Linked DNA regions of Homo sapiens: region 1 is linked to region 2. Evidence: fine-mapped expression QTL. Tissue or cell type: nucleus accumbens. Region 2 holds a variant in brackets; the other region holds the start of a gene. All regions are shown on one strand. Distances are from middle to middle.

Evidence for each region. PIP is the estimated chance that this variant, and not a neighbour inherited with it, causes the effect.
Region 1: SLC13A3 starts here. The variant in region 2 is the best candidate, but not a certain one, in a credible set for the expression of SLC13A3 in nucleus accumbens (GTEx, PIP 0.72).

The regions. Positions count from the first base shown.
Region 1 is chr20:46,646,628-46,657,734 of GRCh38, forward strand. It overlaps SLC13A3 (solute carrier family 13 member 3), which reads right to left and starts at 4,832. Exons shown (of 13, transcript NM_022829.6): 1 at 4,684-4,832. The coding sequence starts at 4,794.
Region 2 is chr20:46,542,097-46,553,203 of GRCh38, forward strand. It overlaps OCSTAMP (osteoclast stimulatory transmembrane protein), which reads right to left and starts at 8,558. Exons shown (of 3, transcript NM_080721.3): 1 at 8,421-8,558; 2 at 3,231-4,233. The coding sequence starts at 8,464. RefSeq lists enhancers at 2,864-3,715, 2,922-2,991, 11,018-11,107. The variant T/A (reference allele first, on the strand shown) is at 4,722.

The DNA of each region.
Region 1 (11,107 bases), 100 kb after region 2:
GGTTTTCTCAACTCTAAAGCCCATGTTCTCTCCAACATTTAACTTCTCTGAGCCTCAGTTTCATCATCTGCAAAATAGGAGAACTAAAACATATTTTCAGCATTAAATAAAAAACTAAGAATTTATAGTACAGGCACAATGTATTAACTCACTGTGGCCAGAAAATAACTGGGAAAGAATATAATATTATGGCTGTGTTATAAATGAAGAAACCAAGGCCAGAAATAGAAAATGACTTGCCCAGCAAGTATGTGGAATGCGAATGCAGTTCTGATTCCAAAGCCTCAAAACTGGGAATGAAAGGACCATCTTCCTGGTCATCTACCTGCCCACAAATTAGGCAAATGCAAGAAAGGGGGCCTCTGACCTTACAGGTGTACTACCATCCCCCCCAAATATCTCTATCCCAGAGTAAGTCTGCTGTTGGCCACCGTGACACCTTTGTGCAAATTAGAATAAAAGGCCCTTCCTCAGGTGGATCCAGCTGTGCACCAGGGTGCACAGCTTGGCATGTGGAATGCAGGCTGGTTCAGCCTTACTTGCCTCCTCAAGCACCTTGTGCAGTGCACAGCTTGCACAACACTCTGTAGCAGCCTTGCCGAGAGCATCCCCAAACTCTTCCTTCTCAGAGCATCTTTAGAGTCACCTGTGAGTCCCCAGTGTTAAGAACTCCTCTTGGACAGGTGGTCAGTATCATTTAATTTGCTCTCAGGGGGCATAAGGCAGGAAAGGGGGTAAGGCTTCTCTGCAAACAAGTGGGGCTGGAGCTTATTTGTAAGCCTGTTTTATTAATAAGAGTCCCATCTGTGCCCACTAGCTAAGATCACTCCCCAAACCTCTAACTCGCAGGATGGCCATTCTTGGAAAACGTTGATGTAGTCCCTGGGGTAGCATCCCAACTTCCTGAGCCCCCAGCACTCTTCATAGCAAGAGCTAGGATCCCCAGTGGTGCTGGAAGCGGCAGCCATGCATTCCAGAGCTCATCCCACTCCTTTTCATCCCTGCTGACAGCATTTCTGAGCCAGAGGACATAATGTAAGAATTGTTCCTTCCAGCTCTGCTCTGCAGATTGACTCCAGCCTCCCCGAAGACAAGCTCACCAGTCACCAGGAACAGGTGCATGAAAACCAACCCTCTTAACACACAGACTCCTAGAACAGCAAAGCAGCAGTGGACAGATGTCATCAAGCTGGAAACCCAGGCCCCAAAGAGGGGTTGTCTCCTACTCCACACTGCCTGGTAAATGACAAATAACTGAACATCTCCAACTTCTTTCCTGATGTGATATCTGCAGTTTCGCAAGTTGTTAGTGATCCATGTATACAATACAACCTGCATTCATGGCGCCAGAATATCCATGTGGAAGAGGCTGAGAAGTGACAATCTGATGTTGGAGTGGACGCTGAGGACGCCTGTCTTGAATTGCCCAGCAAGCATGTTTTGAAGTTAGTCCACCAGCCTCTGTTTGGGGAGGCTCTCACAGGGAGTGACTGGTGAAGATGACCAGAATTGTCTTGAAGCTCCATGTGCATAACAAACCTACTGTGCTTGCTTTAACCCATGTCCCGTTTTGCACCGAGAATACTGCACTGGCAGTGAGCTGCACTTTTTTTTTTTCTAAATGGGAAATGGATTAAATGTGTGTCCCAGATCAATAAAGATGATGATGTTTTCTAAGGATACTTCTTATTCGCATTGTATATGAAATTGAGAAACACGTCTGTTCTTAATGTCAGAGAATCTAATAATGACAATCATATAAATATTGTTATATGGGAGAGGAGGCTTCAGGTATGCCAACAGAGATTTTGAGGGAGGCGAAGGTCCTCCAAAGAGCCAGGCCTGCCTCCTGGGAGGAGGCCCTGGTTCATCAACCACTTAAAGAGGCAGTGACATCTAGAGCCATATAAAGGGTCCCCACAAGGGAACTGTAGGGAACAAAGGGGTGGTTTGTATTGAATTATAACTAAGAAGAGCATGTAAGGCACAGCAGTTAGAAAGAAGTACAGACTCTTGCCTGTAATCCCAGCACTTTGCGTAGCCGAGGCTGGTGGATCGCTTGAGTCTAGGAGTTTGAGACCAGCCTGGGTGACATAGTGAAACCCCGTCTCTACTAAAAATATAAAAATTAGCCGGGTGTGGTGACAGGAGCTGATAGTCCCAGCTACTTGGGAGGCTGAGGCAGGAGGATGGCTTAAGCCTGGGAGGTGGAGGTTGCAGTGAGCCAAGATCGTGCCACTGCACTCCAGCCTGTGTTACAGAGCAAGACCCTATCTCTCTCTCTCTCTCACACACACACACACACACACACACATACACACACACACACACACACACACATAAAGGAGTACAGACTCTGCATTCTGGCTTTGCAGCAGCTGTGTAACCTTAGGCAAGTCACCTAACCCCGCTGAGTTTCCGTTTCTTCACCTGTCAAATAGGGATGCAAATAACAGCTGCCTCTCTGGTTGTTGTGGGCATTACATGGGACAAGCCTGACAAGCTCCTAGCATGGCCCCTAGCACATGGTAAGAGCTAAGCACTCAATAAAACACCTTCTTCATCAGGCTTAGCACCATCATAAGGGATTAGTTACATCCCAGGGGCTCTCCCTGTTATCTCTCCCTGCTTTCCATTCAGTTGTGCATGTTGGAGTTCAGATAGGAAGAGGATCCTTTGTGAAGCTCAAGCTTCAGACCTCTCCCAAGCCTCGTACCGAATCCTGTATTTGTAAATCTGTATTCATTTTCTTCAAGAGTCCCCCTCAAGTAGTAAATGCTCCCCGCCCCTTAACCCTTGGATCTGCTCCTGGGTTCATGTTCTTGCTAGAGAACAGAGCAGAGAGAAGCTGTCGGGACCCCTACTGAGAGAATAGAGACCTTGTGTTTTATCTCTTCTTGCCAGAGAGCTCTGCCTATGGCCTCGCAGACAGCAATCAGTCAAGGCTCAGCCACCCACACTTCCACCAAAGATGTTTCACAAAGCCTTACTCAACCTCTCACATCAATCCCAGAAGCTAGCGGTGTAATCGCTCCACTTACAGGGAAGCAAAACCCAAAGAGGAAAGGAGATTGGTCCAAGATCTTAAGATCCACAGGTCAGAAAGTGGCCTGGGGTGGGCTGAGTTTTGCAAAGGTGACCTCATCCTTCTTCCATCATTTATTGTGTTTTTCTCTTCCACGTCGAGAAAGTCTAATAGCTTAGATAATTCCACACTAATGAACTTGCTGTGTGTTAGCCCTGGGTCTCCTTGGAACCACTGGTGTCACCTTCTTACTCCATGTGCCCAAGGAGGGCTCCTTCTTCCAGGAGAAGCTCCCTGGTCTCAGCTGATCGGTGCTGGGTAATGCACCACTAAATTATACCTCCTCTTTACTTTTATTTTTGTGAACATTTAATACCTCACTGAGAGATGGTGAAGCAACTTCCTGGAGGTAGAAGCCTTATCTTACAAGCCCAGTGCCCTCTCATGATGCCCTGGCTGGGCTGGGCAGGGCACAGGTGAAGAACCCAAAAGGGACCTGTGGTACCATCTCCTTCCAGCCCCCACTAGTGTTGATTTCAGTTATGACTCCTGAACTCCACCTGCGGCCTTTGATCTTACAGGGGTTACTTCCTTGGGGAGACTGAAAACAGCTAGGGTTCTGGATTCTGACAAGCCGGGGACTGAATACCGACATAGTCACTTGCTGTGTGACTCTGAGCAAGTCACTTTCTCTCCCCGAGCCTTGGTTTTCTCCTCTGGAAAATGGGTCAAATAATCTTTCCCCTCTGAGACGCGTTGAAATGATTAAATAAAGTGATACACAAAAGGCAAATCCTCACCCGTAGTAAGCACTCATGAATCTTACCGTCCTCATCACGTAAGGACCTGGTGCAGAAAAAGACCAGTCACTGCTTATTGGGCATTTATTCTGTACAAGGTTTAGTTATAAGAGATTTACATATATTGCCTCATTGATATTCACCGCTGCCCTATGGGTGGGCACTATCATTTCTCCCATTTTTACACATGAGTAAACTGAAGTTCAGAGAGGTTAAGTGACTTGCACCATGTCACACAGCTTGGCACCCAGTAAGTGTTCATTGTGACTGTCGCGTGAAATGTGCAATACAGCACCAAGCACAGAATTAGAGCTCAGGAAAGAAAGAATTCTGCTAGGCACAGTGGTTCACGTCTGTAATCCCAGTATATGGGAGACCAAGGTGGGAGAATTGCTTGAGTCCAGGAGTTCCAGACCAGCCTGGACAACATAGTGAGACCCTATCTCTATTAAAAAAAAATTAGCTGGGCATGCACCTGTAGTTCTAGCCACTAGGGAGGCTGCGGAAGGAGGATCGCTTAAGTCCAGGAGTTGGAGGCTGCAGTGAGCTATGATCACATCACTGCACTCCAGCCTGGGTGACCGGCGAGAACCTGTCACTGAAACGAAACGAAATTATTCCCATGGAAGTGAGATCCAGAAGGCAGGGTGGGACTCAAGCTCTAAGGAGCAGCTGGGAAGAGGGAAGAGGCGTTAGGAGCGTTCACAGCGGTCCGCGGCAGGTGCAAGGGAGGGAAGGCGAGGGGGTCTGGTGGAGCCTGTCTACACTGGGACCTCAGCGGTCTCCCAACTTGGAGGCTTGGGAGAAGAGGATCCCGCCTGTGGTTGACCGGGGGCGCACAGGCGGAGGAGGCGTTACCTTGGGCGGGAGGGCGAAGACCACCGGCAGCAGCGCGAGCGGCGTGAACAGCAGCACCAGCAGCCGCCGCGCGCTCCACACCTTCTTGGCCGCTGCTGCCAGCGCCGCCATCAGCGCGATCGCCTGGCGGTACGGGCCGGCCCGGGACTGCCCCGCCTGGCCCCGGCGCCGGCTTAAAGCCTGGGGGAGGGTCGGGGAGGGGACTGCGCTGGGGAACCCGCCCTCTCCCTGCTCCTCCTGGAGGAAAAGGGTGGTGCCTGCGCCCCTGGGACCGGGTGAAAGAGGCCCGGGAACGTTGGAGAAAGTTAGGCACTAGAATTAGCAAACGGGACCCCAGCCGCAGGGCAGTGTGGCCTTGCCTCTTGGCTTCCCAGCAATGTGGCCTGGGGCAGCTGGCTTATCCTCTCCTCGCCTCTGTTTACTCGCCTGTGAGATGGCTGAGGATGACAAGGCGAGGATTAAGGCGCGTACTCCTATTACCCGGGTTCAAATCCTGGCACGGCCACTTACTCACTGCGTGGCCTTCAACAACAGCCTCTGAGCCTGAAAGTGGAGTGGTGATAATAATAGTCTACACCATGGAATACTATGCAGTCACAAAAAAGAAGGACATCATGTTTTTTGCGGGAACATGGATGGAGCTGGAGGCCATTATCCTTAGCAAACTAACACAGGAACAGAAAACCAAATGCCGCATGTTTTCACTTATAAGCGGGAGCTAAATGATGAGAACACATGGACACATAGAGGGGAACAACTGACACTGAAGCCTATGGGAGGCTGGAGGGTGGGAGGAGACAGAGGATCAGGAAAAATAACTAATGGGCACTAGGCTTAATACCTGGATGACGAAATAATCTGTGCAACAAATCCCCATGACACAAGTTTACCTATACAACAAATCTGCACATGTACCCCTGAACTTAAAAGTTAAATTTTTAAAAATAGTCTACACCAGACAAGAAGGTTGTTAGGAAGTTTAAATGAGATAACACATGTAATGTGATTAGCGCAGTGTCTGGCAGAGCAGGTGCTCAATGAGAGTTATTGCTGCTGATGAGTTATTCTTATTTTTGGGTTTTTTTTTCTTTTTTTTGAGATGTAGTCTCACTCTGTAACCCAGGCTGGGCTGGGGAGCAGTGGAGCGATCTCGGATCACTGCAACCTCTGCCTCCCGGGTTCAAGCAATTCTTCTGAGTAGCTGGGATTACAGGCGTGTGCCACCATATCTGGCTAATTTTTTTTTTTTTTTTTTTTGTATTTTTAGTAGAGATGGGGTTTCACCATTTTGGCCAGGCTGGTCTCGAACTCCTGGCCTCATGATCCGCCCATCTCGGGCCTCCCAAAGTTCTGGGATTACAGGTGTGCGTCACCACGCCCGGCCGTTATTCTTATTTTTTTTTAAGGGGGGTGAGTCACTTCTATTCACTTCTGATTATTCTCAGGTAACCATACAGGAGTGCAACTGTTGGGTTGCCCAGTATTTGCAATGCTTAGCTTTTTAAGACACTGTCAACCTGTCTTCCAAAGTGATTGTACTATTTTGCACTTCCATCAACAATGTATGAATCATCCAGTTTCTCCACATCTTTGCCAACATTTGGTGTTGTCACTGTTTATTTTATTTTAACCATTCTGACAGGGACATAGTAATAGCTCATTGTGGTTTTAATTTCTATTTCCCTAATGGCTAGTGATGTTTAACATCTTTTCACATGCTAATTTGCCATCTCTATATCCTCTTTGGTGAACTATCTTTTCCTGTCATTTGCCTGTTTTCTACTTGTATTATTTGGTTTTTTACAGTTGAGTTTTGAAAGTTCTTTGCAAATTCTAGATGTCAGTTCTTTGCCAGTTACGCTGTTTGCAAATATTTCTCCCCGTCTGTAGCTTGTCTTTTCAGCCTCTTAACTATATATCACCAAGCAAACATTTCTAATTTTGATGTAGTTAAATTTATCAAATTTTTCCTTTGGATGATCGGGTTAAGCTCTCTGCATAGCCTTAGACCCCAAAGAGTTTCTCGTATGTTTAGTTTGCTTTGTTCTCACAGAAGTGTCCAAGGAAGAGAATACAGTCATGGGTTCTTAGTTTCTGTTTCTGGTTGGGCCAGTAAAGCCCCTTCCTCATCCCTCTTTTCCACTCATCACTAGAGACAGAAACTAAAAACCATGGCTTCAGGCTGCTAAAAGCTTAAAACAAACAAACAAACAAAAAAAGAACAACAACAAAATAAGGCAGGTTGGACAAGCTTGTCAGAAGTTTTACAGTTTTGAAACACTGTATTCATTACAAAATAACTTCATTCTCTCCTCCCACAGCCTCTGGAAACCATCATTCTGCTTTCTGTCTCTATAAATTTGATTAATCTGGATAGCTCATACAAGCGGTATCATGGAATATTTATCCTTTTGTGATTAGCTTTGTGTCCTTAAGGCTCACCCATGTTGTAGCATGTGTCATAATTCCTTTTTAAGGCTGAATAATATTCCATTGTATGGATATACTATATCGTGTTTATCCATTCATTTGTTGATAGACATTGGGTTGTTTCTACCGTTTGGCTATTGTGAGTAATGCAGCTATAAACATAGGTGTACAAAGAGTATCTGTCTGAGTCCCTGCTTTCAGTTCTGGGTATATACCCAGAAGTGGAACTGCTGGATCATAAGGTAATTCTGCGCTTTTTGAAAATTATTATTGAGAAATGGCCATACTGTTTTTCACAGAGGCTGCACTATTTTACATTCCCACGATGTGCAAGGGTTCCAGTTTCACCACATCCTCACCAACACTTATTTTCTGTGATTTTTTTAAATAATAGCCATCCTAATAGGTGTGAAGTGGTATCCCACTGTGATTCTGATGTGCGTTTCTCTAATGATTATTGATGTTGAACATCTTTCCATGTGTTTATTGGCCATCTGCGTATCTTGTTTGGAGAAATGTCTATCCAGGGCCTTGGTCCATTTTTTTAGCATTTTGGTTTTTGTCACTTGCATGGCTTTTTTCAGTAATTGCTCTAGGTATTACATTGCATGTACATAACTTATAAGTTATAATCCACTGGTATTGCCATTTAACCAATTCCAGCAAAGCATAGAAACCTTACTTCATGCCCCTTTGCCTTACCCAGTTTAAAATACTTCTTTCAATATTTTCTCTACATACATTTAGAACCACATCAGTGTTTTAACTTTTCCTTCAGCTATCAGGTATAATTTTTTTTTCTTGTTGACATGGAGTTTTGCTCTTGTTGCCCAGACTAGAGTGCAATGGCGCCATCTCAGCTCACTGCAACCTCCGCCTTCCAGGTTCAAGTGATTCTCCTGCCTCAGCCTCCTGAGTAGCTGGGATTACAGGCACCCACCATCACACCCGGCTAATTTTTTGTATTTTTAGTAGAGACGGGTTTACACCATGTTGGCCAGGCTGGTCTCAAACTCTTGACCTCAGGTGATCCACCGGCCTAGGCAACACAAATTGTTGGGATTATAGGCATGAGCCACCATGCCTGGCCAAGAACTTCCTTTAATCATTCTTTGAGACCAGGTCTGCAGGCAACAAATTCTCTTAGTTTTCCAACATCTGAGAAGGTCTTGATTTCCCCTTGGTTCTTATTTTTGGTGGACATAGAATTCTGTTATTTTCTTTGAGCACTTGAGAAATGCTATGCACCTACTTTCTGGCCTCCATGGTCTCTGGTGAAAAATCTGATATCATTTGAGTTATTTCTTCTCCATAGGTAAGGTTCATTTCTCTTTCTCTTGAATAAATATTTTCCAAGATTTCTTTTTTTTGTCTTATGTTTTGAGAAGTTTGGCCATGATATGTCTTGGTGTGGATTTCCTTGGTTTACCCTAGCAATATTTGGAGTTCACTCAGCTTCTTGGGTCTGTAGATTTATAATATACACATACATATATACACATATATATACACACGTATATACACATATGTATACACATATATACACATATATACACATATATACACACACATATATACACATAGATATGTTCATTCATATATATATATACCAAATATACATATATGTATATATAAGCCAAAAGAGGTTTAATTAGCTCATGGTTATGCAGGCTTTACAGGAAGCATGGTGCTGGCATCTGCTCGGCTTCTGGGGAGGCCTCAGAGAGCCAACATGTATATATATGTGTGTGTGTGTGGTATATATATAATATATATTTTTATATAGTATATATTATATATACTATACAAAAATACAGATATACTACACAATAATATTCCATTGTATGGATATACCATATCATGTTTATCCATTCATTTGTTGATAGACATTGGGTTGTTTCTACCTTTCGGCTATTGTGAGTAATGCAGCTATAAACATGGGTGTACAAAGAGTATCTGTCTGAGTCCCTGCTTTTATACAAAAGAAAATAATATATATATACTATATATATATTTTATACAAAAGAAAATAGTATATATATGCCTTCAGTATATATAATATATAATACTGTATATACTATATATACTATACAGTATATATTATACTGTATATAATATATATACTGTACAGTATATATTATACTGTATATAATATATATACTGTACAGTATATTATATATACGTATATAATATACTACAGTATATATATACAGTATACATATATGTATATATGTATGTATATATGTATATATGTATACTACATATACTATATATACAGTATATATACATATACTACAGTATACTATATATACATATACTACAGTATACTATATATACATATATATTATATATACTGTACAGTCTATATTATACTGTATATAATATACCACACAGTCTATATTATACTGTATGTAATAGACTGTACAGTCTGTATTATATTGTATATAATATAGACTGCACAGTATATATAATACTGTATGTGATGTAGACTGTACAGTATATATTATACTGTATACTTATATAGACTGTACAGTATATATTATACTGTATATAATATACTATACAGTATATATTATACTGTATATGATATACTATACAGTATATATTATACTGTATATGATATACTATACAGTATATATTATACTGTATATGATATACTATACAGTATATATTATACTGTATATGATATACTATACAGTATATATTATACTGTATATGATATACTATACAGTATATATTATACTGTATATGATATACTATACAGTATATATTATACTGTATATGATATATACTATACAGTACATATATTATACTGTATATGATATATACTATACAGTACATATATTATACTGTATATGATATATACTATAGTGTATATATTATACTGTATATGATATATACTACCTATTATTATATATATAGCCAAATTTGGGAAGTTTTCAGCCATTATTTCTTTGAATAATTTTATGTCCCACTTTCTTTCTCCTCTCCTTGCATAATTTCAGTGATACAGATGTTAGCTCTTTTGCTGTAGTTCCCCCTGTCCCTGCAGCTCTATTTACCTTTTCAGTCTATTCTCTCTCTGTTGTTCACAGTGGGTAATTTCCATTGTTCCATGTCCCGGTTCACTGATCCTTCTGCCTTCTCCATTTGCTGTTGAACCCATCCGTTGTATAATATTCTTCAGTTATACAATTTTCATTTGATTCTTCTTTGTACCTTCTATTACTTTGCTAAGTCTTCTGTTTCTTTGCTGAGGTTTTCTACTTTTTTCGTTTGTTTCCAGTGTGACACATCACTGTCATCTTAATATTAAGCATCAAAAGTCAGTTTGACCAGCCTGGTCAACATGGCAAAACCTCATCTCTACTAACAAACCAACAAAAAAAGCTTTTGAGAAAAAGTTTGAAAAAAAACTTTTATCATGATCCGGGACATCATCAGAGAGCACTGAGCTTGTAAGATAGGGCTTCTACCTCCAGGAAGTAGCTGGGTGTGATGGCATGCTTGTAATCCCAGCTACTCAGGAGGCTGAGGCACGAAAATCATTTGAACCCGGGAGGCAGAAGTTACAGTGAGCCGAGATCGCACCACTGCATTCCAGCCTGGATGACAGAGTGCGAAAATGTCTCAAAAAAAAAAAAAAGTCAGTGTGAGACCTTCCACTTGTCTTATACAACAAGTGACTTTCGTTTGGAACCTGGACATTTTGGGTACTGTATTACGAGATTTTGGCTCTTATTTAAAACTTGTTTTTGCTGACTTCTTTCAGTGCTCTTGCAAAGGAAATGGGGATGTCACCTCATTACTACAAGACGAAAGTAGAAGTCCAGTTCCCCACCTCATCCTCCATTAATATCTGAGGTGGGGGGAGTTGTTAGGCCGTTTCTGCATTGCTATAAAGAAATATGTGAGGCTGAGTAATTTATAAAGAAAAGAGGTTTAATGAGCTCATCGTTCTGCAAGGTTGTACATGAAACATGGCGCTGTCATC
Region 2 (11,107 bases):
TTCTTTTGCCAAATAAAAATCACCATACAAATGTTACTAAGGTTAGTATCTTTGAGCAGAATATTTTAGAGAAAACAAATTGTCTATGGATGTTTGCTCCTTGCTGAGTCCTTACTGAATACTTTAGATGTCCTATTCCATCCAATATACACAATTCTATGGGTCGAGCCCAGGAGGAGCCTAATTTAAAAGATGGGAAGTGGCCAGGCGCAGTGGCTCACGCCTGTAATCCCAGCATTCTGGGAGGCCGAGGCGGGTGGATCACTTGAAGTCAGGAGTTCGAGACCAGCTTGGCTAACACGGTGAAATCCCGTCTCTACTAAAAATACAAAAAATTAGCTGGGTGTGTTGGCACGTGCCTGTAATCCCAGCTTCTCAGGAGGCTGAGGCAGGAGAATAGCTTGAGCCCGAGAGGGGAGGGTGCAGTGAGATTACACCACTGCACTCCAGACTGGGCAACACAGCAAGACTCTGTCTCAAAAAAAAAAAAAAGATGGGAAGCCCAAAGCCACACATGGGTTACATGTTGCCAACTCAGGGATCAGTCTCAGCCAAGGTGGGTCCCTATGTCCTGCTTATAAGCACTGGGCCCTGCAGTTTCCATAGGTATGTCCAGGTGAGGAAGAATGGTATCTAGAGAGGCAGGGAAGAAAGAAGTTCACCATTTGAACTTTGGAACCAACCTGGGTTGGATTCTGCACTAACCCAGGTGCAGAAGGATAGCTTGCCACACCCCAAATGGTTCAAATGAATGCAGGAGAAACTCCCAAAGCTTTCAGAAAAGATGAAATAATGTGAAAGCAATGAGTGGGCCTGTACAATTTATGCTTTCCCAGAGGATCAGAGAGTGCCAGCCTCAAAACTTGCTGAGTGAGGGCCCGCAGCTTGCAAGAAAATGCTGGAAACAATGGTGGGGCATCACCGGGGCTCTGGAAGGCACAGAGAATGATATTGGAGGAAAAGCCTCAGAGACTGACTCCTCGGCCAGAGTCATTCAGAAAAGTCAGATTGAATGTTTTAGGAAAACCATCAGATTACTTCCCCTCCCTCCCTTCCTTCCTTCCTCCCTTCCTTCCTTCGTCCCTCCCTCTCTCTCTCATTCCTTCCTTTTTTCTTTCTTCCTTCCTTCCTTTCTTTTTCTTTCTTTCTTTCTTTCTTTCCTTCTTTCTTTTCTTTCTCTCTTTCTCTTTCTTTCTCTCTTTCTCTTTCCTTTCTTTCTTTCTTTCTTTCTTTCTTCGTTTCTTCCTTTTTTTTTTTTTGGAGTCTTGCTGGCTCAGGTTGGAGTGCAGTGGAGCAATCTCAATTCACTGCAAACTTTGCCTCCCAGGTTCAAGCGATTATCTCACCTCAGCCTCCTGAGTAGCTGGGATTACAGGCACACACCACCATGCCTGGCTAATTTTTGTATTTTCAGTAGAGATGGGGTTTCACCATGTTGTTGGCCAGGCTGGTCTTGAACTCCTGACCTCAGGTGATCCACCCACCTCGGCCTCCCAAAGTGCTGGGATTATAGATAGGCATGAGCCTCCATGCCCAGCCCCCTATTTTTCTTTTTATGTATACGCGAGAAAGATATGGCAAAATAAACCTATGTTAAATAATAAGTGAACTATTTTATACAAATACAATAAAAATTCTAAATGATAAGAAAGCATTGTGTCAAGGTTGAATTGGTAGCATTTTCTGCCCTAAGGATACATAAAGTAATGGTGTGACTTGCAATTGATGACTATCTGAGATTTGGTGAAAATGAGTAAATCAGGGAACATGCTTAGAACATTGCCTGACACATTTCTTTACTGTGACCTATGGTAAGAAATGCATTTTACAGGCCAGGCATGGTGGCTTATGCCTGTAATCCCAACACTTTGGGAGGCTGAGGTGAGAGGAATGCTTGAGCCCAGGAGTCTGAGACCAGCCTGAGCCACATAGTGGGACACCATCTCTAAAAAAAATATTAAAAATTAACTGGGTGGTGGTGGTGCATGCCTGTAGTCTCAGCTACTTGGAAGGCAGAGGTAGGTGAAGTGGGAGGCTCGTTTGAGCCAGGAGGTCAAGGTTACAGTGAGCTGTGATTGCACCACTGCACCACTGCATTCTGGCATGGGCAACAGAGTGAAACCCTGTCTCAAAAAAGGAAAGAAAAGAAATGCATTTTACAGTACCTTCAAAGCAGAGATTGTTTTGTAATTGAAGAAAATATTCAAAAACCATACACTCCCTTATTGCCTAAGATGTAATCTTATAATTTTCCAGTTGATTCTATTTCATTAAAAACACTATTTATGACTCCTTAAATTGATTAAATTGATTTTGTGCAGTCTGAAAAGCACTTTCTTAATATGTAATAAGTACTTGATAAATATAAACTGTTAATATTATTAGCTCGAAGTTTGACACTTTGATATGTTTTATGCAATGGACTTTTGTGTGAGACCTCACTACTAAAAATTAAAAATAAAAAGATCCGTGGCAAAAGAAAGGATCGAAAAACACAACTCTTGATCTGATAGTAATATATCCGATTATAAGTCGATAGTAAATATTTTCTATATCACTATTAAAATAGCAAATATTTCAGGCTTTGCAGGACATACAGTCTCTGTTGCAATTACTCAACTTTGCCTTTGTAGGGCAGCCACAGACAATATATTGACAAATGGCATGGCTGTGTTCTAAAAAAGCTTTATTTACAAAACCAAGAAGCCATTGGATTTGTCCTGAAGGCTATAGTTGGATGCCTCCTGATCAAGGCCATTCCAAAGTCCTCCTCCAGTCTGACATAGACAGATGTAAGCTATTAATAATAGCCACTCTTTATTAAATAATCTCTTATGTGCCATGGAGCTTACTAGGTACTTTAAGACAATACCACATTGTAAGACACAATAGCCTTTTAGGATTAGGAGGATCGATTCAATTTGTACAAATGTGGAAAATGAGGCTAGGACAAGCTGCCACTTGTGAAGGGTGACCTTGGATGCAAGTTATTTTAAGGTGTCTGGGTTTCAGCATCCTCAACTGCAATAGGAAGTGAAAATAGAAACCACTTCCTAGAGCTGTTGTGGGTATCCGATGAGTCCCTCTGCCCATGGTATGGGGCCCCATGGATGATTCAAGGGCTGTTTCTTGGAGGCAAGTCAAATTTCATCACAAGTCAAGGGTTTAACAGATTCTCCCCCTGCCCTCAAAACAATGACTCCCTTCCCTTTTCCCATCATCACACTTACATCATACTTGACCGTGAGCGTGATGGGCACAGTTGGCAACTTCTGAGCCCAGTCCACAGTAGCCTGTGCCAGGAGGAAGGCTACATGGTCTGTGGCCACCGCCACAGCCGTGGCCACGAGGAGCAGGGCAAGCAGCCCCAGCCTTAGAAGACAACTCAACAGCTCCTCCTGTGACAGCCTCAGCTGAGCCGCCTGGAGCAGCCAGGTGGGTGGAGGGGCCAGGAGGTGTGTAGCCTGGGCCTGTGCCAACCGCTGGGTCAGCTGTTGAGTGGCGTAGATATTGTCAAACCGCAGGTCTGTCAGGTAGCAATGGAGGTACCATGCCGACTCCACCAGGAGGCCCAACATAAACAGCCCTGTGACCACTCGCTGGGTCCCTAGCGCTGCTGCCCGGGCCAGGGACTCCAGGCCAGAGAAATCCTCCAGGACCTGCTGAGTGACCCTGAGCATGTGAAGGTAGAAGGCAGAGCCATTGTCCTGGGCCTCAAATGTCAGGCCCCGGCTGCCTGCCTGGCCTGTGGGGCCCAGAGCCCTGGATGCTGCATGCAGCTGGTGAGTGGTATTGAGGAGACTCTCCAGGGAGCCCTCGGTGACACACCTCAGCACCTGCCCGGCCGCACCCACGTTGGCCAGGACGTTGGGCACCACAGCAATGGCCAGGGTGGCAGTGCTGTAGGACAGGAGCAGCCGGCGGCCCTGCTCCATACCCAGGGTGGGCACGCTGAGTGCAAACAGGCAGCGGACTGGGGGTACCAGGCCCAGGCTCAGGAAGACCAGGAGGCCACAGACAGTGGCAACCATGGCTGAAGGTCCAGGAGGATAAAGCAGCAAGGATGCCAGCCAGTGATAAACCAGACCTGCAGCAGCAGCAGCCAGGGAGGCACACAGGAGGAGCTGGGTCAGCAGCTGGCCACAGCTGGCTGGAACAGGCTGGGAGAAGGCGTCCCAGGCAGCCTGCAGTGGGGCAAGGGCCTTCCAGAACCCCAAGTGCCAGGACCTCCACCTGCACACAAGGAAATTGAAGGGCATCTCTATCAGGAGGTGGGTGGGTGGGTGTCTGTCCACTGCCCCTGCCCCACATACCCATCACCAGGCTCTGCTAACAGACTCCACCCTTGTAGTTACCCAGGTGGACCAATCAGAGTAAGTCACTGTATACCCACGTGACACAAGCTGAACCAATCAGAGCCTTCCCCAGGATTACTCTCGCTGGAACTGTCAGGGAAGAGCCCAATTCCCATGCAGTACCTGAGGATGTGAGGATGAAAGTCTGCCCTGTTTGAGTCCATTATTACAGTTTTGTGAAGGCAACTGGCCCAAGAGAATGAAAGAGTCATGGAGCGAGAAGCACAGGTGAAAGAGAGAGAATGAGTAAGAGGAGAGAGAAGAAGAGAAACGATTTCACTTGAATTAATAGTCTTGGTGGCTTGCTGTATGATTCTGGACCTTCTATTCTTTCTGAACTTCAGGGTCTCCTCTATAATTTAGGGG[T/A]GAGGAGGGTGAACTAGTTGGCCTGTGAGGGACTTTTATATTCTATCATCCTTATATTTATTCATTCAACAAGTGTTTATCAAGCAACGACTTTGTGTTAACCATTGGAGAAACAGGAATGAAAAAAACAGAAGTCCCTACCTTCGTGGGGCTTGCACTATGTTAAGAGCGATGGCAGAGGAGTAGTAAGGAAAGCTTGGATTCTGAACACATTTTGTTGGCAGAGTCAACAAGATTTGCAGAGGCTGATTGGTTGTGGGGTGTGAGAGAAAGAGGGGAGTCAAGGATGACGAGGTGCTTTTGTGTCTGAGCAACTGGAAGCACCAAGGTGTCATTTCCTGAGATGAGAACTCTGTGGTCAAAACAGGTTTGAGTGGAGGGGGAGAGAGGAGGAATTCAGTTCAGAACTCTTAAATTTGAGATTCAGTTGAGCCATTCCGTGGAGCTTTTGACGACGTGGTTGGAAATAGAAGTCAGGAATTCAGAGGGGAGGTCAGGCTGGAGTTATAACATTGGGAGTCTGATTATTAGATGTCTCCCAACTTTATATCCCTACCTAAAGCCATGTGCACCATGAGATTCCTCAAGAGAGTGTGTCACTGGGGAGGAAAGACATCCAAGGACATGCCTCAAGGCGCTCCAAGGTTAGGGGCTCTTAGATAAGGAGGAACCAGCAAAAGAGACTGAGAAACCAATGTGGTGCTTAGGAAGCCAAATAAACAAAATGTTTCAAGGAGAAAGGAGTGATCAAGTACGTCAAATGCAGCCAACAGGTCAAGAATGATGAGGACTGAGCAATGCCTATTAGCCGCTTAGAGGTCACTGTTGACCTTGGCAGGGAGAGTTCGGTGGCTTTTGGGGCCAAAATCCAACTAGACTGGGTCCAGGAGAGACGGGAAGGAGAAGAATAGGAAACACAGATACAGACAACTCTTTCCGGTAATTTCTACACTAAAACAGCAGGGAGATGAAGCAGTGGCTGGTAGCTATGGGAAATTGGACCAAGAGAATTCATGTAAAGGGAGGAAATCTATAGCATGTTTGCAGGTGGGAGATCTCATCGAGAGGGGAGACATTGACAAAGGGGAGACTCCCTGGAGTGACACCTGTAGGGGTGGAGGCAGAGAGTGAGACTGAGAACATGCAAGGTGGGGCTGGTCTTAGAATAGAGCAGGGGTCGTTCATCCTTAATAGCAGGTGGGAAAGCAGAGGAAATAGGTACAGATGATGGCGAATGAACAGGCAGCGTGTATGCACCTGTGAAAAGTATCCTCTGATATACGCAGAGCAGAGTAATGTTAAGGGCATGACCTCTGGACTGCCTGGGCTCAAATTTCTGCTCCACCACTTGCCAGCTATGTGAACTTGGGTACATATCACAACCTTTCTGTGTCTCAGCTGTCTCATCTGTAAAATGGTGCAATAAAAGTATGCACCTCCTGGGGTCACTTTGTTTCTGGCACATGGTAAGTATCACATCAGCTATTACCTACCACTAGAGTCAACTCCACCGGAGCAGGGACTTTGTCCGTTTTGGTCACTGATATGTCCCAAGTGCCTACAATAGTGTCTGCCATGTTGTGAGTGCTCCAAAACTATTCATTAAGAGTAGCATGACCGATTGCTTCTGTTTGCTCAGGTTGGCAGGAAGCAAGGTCAGCAGAGAAGGTAAGATGCTGGCGGAGGTGATGGATGCTTGAAGAGGAAGAAGAAAGTACAAAATGGTTGCCCAGGAAAGTGGGAGAACAAACGAACTGGGGCAATAACATATGTGCTGGGCAACACTGAGGCCCACTTGAGGTTGGAGATCATACATTATCTTAAGTGAGAGCAGGCAGAAAGGTTATACGGGAATATGGTTATAAAGGGCAGGGAGGGTGGTGGGGAGGCTGTCACTGTGTTGGTTACAGGCAAAGCTGCTGACTTGCTCCACCATCAACAGCTTGAAGGATAAGCATGTGACTGGGTCTAGTTGATCCAAGTACCTCTGATCCCCTGGCCACCGTGACTGGTGCAGGGATTGCACCTGACCGGAGATGGACCAATAGAGCTTTCCTCAGGATTTTGCTGCAACGACAAAAAAACTGCCCTTTGTTGCCTTGAGAGCTAAGCTGGTAGGAAGATGCCTCAAGCCTTGGGGACCACCATGTAGTATGAGTCGGCCTGGGATGAAGGCAACACAAGGAAAACAGTGTTAGGAAACAGACAGAGAGTCCCAGTGGCCTTGTTGGAGGACCTGGATCCAGAAATGCCTGAAGCCGAAATCTATGCCGGACCACACACTAGGAGATGTCTGTTTTTCTACAGGCAGTGTAAGATCAATCTGTCACTTGCAACTCAATGAGTCCTGACTAATACAGAAACCTTTGTCACAGGGCTTCTGGGACAATAAAATGAAATAATCCATGTAAAGAAGTTTACACAGGGTCTGGCACAGAAGAGGGATCCTATAAAACTGCACCACTTGTTACTCTGATGATACTTATGTCAACGATGTAAATGTTTCACTCGAGTCTCCTCTGTGCCCAGGCTCTGTGCTGACCCCTGTGGACACAAAGATGAATTAAGTCCTGGTCCCACTAAAGGAGTTCACAGTCTAATTGAGGAGACTTAAATAGACCATTAGAGTTTAAGTTCATTAACAAAGAATTCTGAGCATAGTATGCCTGGGCCTGGACTGGGGTGGGATAGATGGAGAGTGACCCAGTTTTACCTGGGAGTCAGGAAGGCTCCCTGGAAGAGGTGACATTCCAGCTGGGGGTGGAAGGACAAGTGTCAGTTTGTGGGTGAAGAAGGGAGTTGGACATCCCTGACAGAAGGAACAGCGTGTGCAAAGGTCCTGTGCTCTGACCATCGGGAAATAGGGAGTTGGGAGAACCAGAACAGTGGGAAGCTGAGATGCAGTGAGGCCTGTGGGGCTGGAGTGAAGGTCACAACCTTGAAGCCCTAAAGGCTGAATCATATGCAAATGTGCCTTATTGTGGCCCACTCTGTGTGTGTGTGTGTGTGTGTAAGCTGCCCCCATTTGGAAATAAGGAAGTTTCACATTAAAATCTGGGTTTCCAGCTTTTCTTGAGAGATAAGAAGATCTGGGTTAGAGCTCCCACCTTTGCAACAGGTAGCTGGAGCTGAGTATCCACTACCCACCTTTGACAGGGGAGCAGCCCTGCAGACTGCATCCTGCTGATCAATGAACGGGTCCGTCTGCACACCCAGGTGGCCTTCCACAGGTGCAACCCCTTCCCAGCTCCCGAAGGCATTTGAATTTGGGACTAAACACCCCCTTCTACTATATAATTAATATTTGGAACACAGTAGCTTTTGGAATAATAGCTAATAATAAAAACAATTTTAAGGATTGAAAGCCAGTCCTAAGTCATATTGGATGACAATTCCTGCACGGGGTATTGAAAATGGCAAGGAAACTAGCTGCTGTTTAGTGAGTGCTTCCTCTGAGCCAAGCAGGTGCCAAGTACTAAGCATGTGTTTTCTCATTCAATTCTGGCAACAGTCTTGTAGATGTCATTATTACTTCCATTTCACAGATGGGGAACTGAGGCTCACAGAGAACTGAGGATTTGCCTAAGGTCACATAGCCAAGGAATGGCAGAGCTGAAGATTTGGGTTCATATCCATCACCCCCAATGGCTGACTGTTTTCTCACCTGTAGCCCTCAGTGTCCAAAGTCCCCAGACCTACCCGGTCTTGACAAGTTGCTCAGCTGCTCCTGGGTGGCCTGGCATGCTGTCCAAATGGCAGTGGTTTCAGGCGGGCGGTCGCTGGCAGCTGTGGCAGGTGGAGAGGAAGTGGGGGAATCGCTGGGACTTGGGAATCCCTGCCACTTCTGCTTTTCCACTCTTTAATGAAGCTCTCCTGGCTGCCTTGTCCCGCCCTTTTCGGGGCCCACCTCCCAGAGGGTTGGGCAAGCTGCCTCATCCTCTGCCCACAAGCAAGAGCGGGTGGAAGGTGTGGGAAGAGGAAAAGACAGCCTTTTCCAAGCGATGTCTCTAATCTTGGTAGCAGGAAGGTAGAATTAGCCCCATTTTACAGAGAAGGAAACTGAGGCACAGAGAAACCATACAGCTTCCCTTTCCCTCCCACTCCATAGTTGTGTGCCCCAAGGGGAGCCTGATCCCTGCTCTTGGGACTCACAGGTGATAATCAGACCCCTGCCAAGTACTGGGAGCAGTGGCTCTGGTCTCCTTCCCCAGCCCCCTTCCTGTCTTTAGCCTGACTTGTACCTCGCTTCAAATCTCAGCTCTGTCCCTCCCTAGCTATGAGACCTTGGGCAGGTGACCTCATATCTCTCTGCTGGTTTTCTCCCCTTAAAAAAAGTTTAATGAGGCTGGGCACAGTGGCTCACATCTGTAATCCCAGCACTCTGGGAGGCTGAGGGGGGTGGATCACCTGAGGTCAGGAGTTTGAGATCAGCCTGACCAACATGGTGAAACCCTGTCTCTACTAAAAATACAAAAATTATCTGGTTTGTGGTGGTGCATACCTGTAGTTCCAGATACTCGGGAGGCTGAGGCAGGAGAATCACTTGAACCTAGGAGACAAGGTTGCAGTGAGCTGAGATCACGTCACTGCACTCCAGCCTGGGCACAGAGCGAGACTCCGTCTCAAAAAAAAATAGTTAATGAAAATAACAGTTAACATTTATTGAGCACTTACTATGTATCAGGCATTCTTCTAAACAATTTCTCTTCAAATTCACTGAACACTTACTTTGAACATCCCTTTATGGTAAAGATGTTATTTTCATTCTTCAGCTCAGAAAACTGAGACTCAGAGAGCTACGTCGCCAACCACGCCACTCAGCTATTAATGGTACTGCCGTGATTTCTAACCAGCGGGCTGGCTTCAGGGTATACCAGTTAGCCACTGGGCTCTGCTGCTGTGGAGGGGATAATTCACAGACCTCGTGATTACTTCATAGTACAGCTGGTACTGCAAATAGTAGGTACTCAATAATGTAAATTCCCCACGCACACCCTCTGCAGTTAGTGCCCTGCAGGTCTGCTTTCAGGCTGTCCTGAAAGCCAGTTCCTACCTGGAATGCAGACACCTCTCCAGCATCTCTGTACCCCATCACTCCCAGCAGGCCTCCCCTGAGCCCCCCAGGCTCCCCCTCTGTGGGATGGACCAGTAGGGGCACAGCCACTTTCCCTTATAAGGACATGTTGCCTGGGTCACTCTCAGGCCTGAAGGGGAATGTCCTGCGGCCTGGATAGGGGAAGTGACGTTCTTATAGTTACACAGCGATTGAATGGAATACCTGTGGCCAGAACCCTCAGAGGGCCTAACACACTTCCCAGACAGTGCACCCCTGCAGGATGTTAGGCCAGCTACCAGGTCTGCAAAGAACTAAGTACATGAGGCAGACTAGCAGCAGCAAACTTGTGTACCCACAGGGGCCACGCTGCTTAGCTCATGAACAAAGCAGGATGAATGCAAATAGCAGTGAGCTACAAAGTGTAGCCCCCCCCACTCCCTCCTGTCTGGTCAGCTGTTATTCATCTCCAGTTGAGGGTCAAAGCCCCTTGAAAACGAGGCCCACCATGACCAGATTTTCCAGCTTTTCTAAAGACGCCAGTCATTCTCTTTTTAATGTAAATGTCAGCTTTTTTTTTTTTAAATGAAAGACTACCATGCAGACCAATCTTAACAGGTCTATGGGCCAAAGCCAGCATGAGGAGCATCAATTTTCACCTTCCGCAGGAGGCCTTAGTCAGGCCTGCTGTTAGCTGTCTGGCTGCAAGGAGATGTCTAGCTATTCCCCCCAAACTGCAGGGGCCCTGGACTGGAGGCAGCAGACCTGAACTCAAATGCCAGCTTTACCACTTACTGTGCTGTGTGACCTTGGGCAAGACACTGTCCCTCTCTGAAGTTGTGCATCCTCTGCTATAATGAGGGTAATACAGTACCTACTTTAAGGACTGTTTGAGGATTCAATGAGATAATGCATATAGAGTGTTCAGTAAACAATAGGTAAATGCTCATGCCCTGTTTCCTCCTACCTGGGATGACAGTTCTGCCAAGTGAGCCCCTGTCTGCTCACATCTGATTGTTGAGACTTCTGATGCTCACCAGGCCACCCTGGCCTGGATCCCATCACATAGCAAACTTCAGGGCATTGTGCTGGTCAGACAGAAAGAGTCCTAGAAGCCAGCCACCAGCATTTGCCCAGTTTCTGCACAGGCACTAGGGAGCTGGTTGGATAAGGACCAGGCAGTTTGTTTCCGGAAGGCCTCTGGTGGATATGTAAGATTTGGGAGCATGGGGGCATAGGGAGTGAACAGGCAAAATATATTTTTGGCTTTTCTCGGTACATGTAGGCAGTTACCTCTGTCTATATAAGGCTGGCCTGACCTCAAGGCCCACAA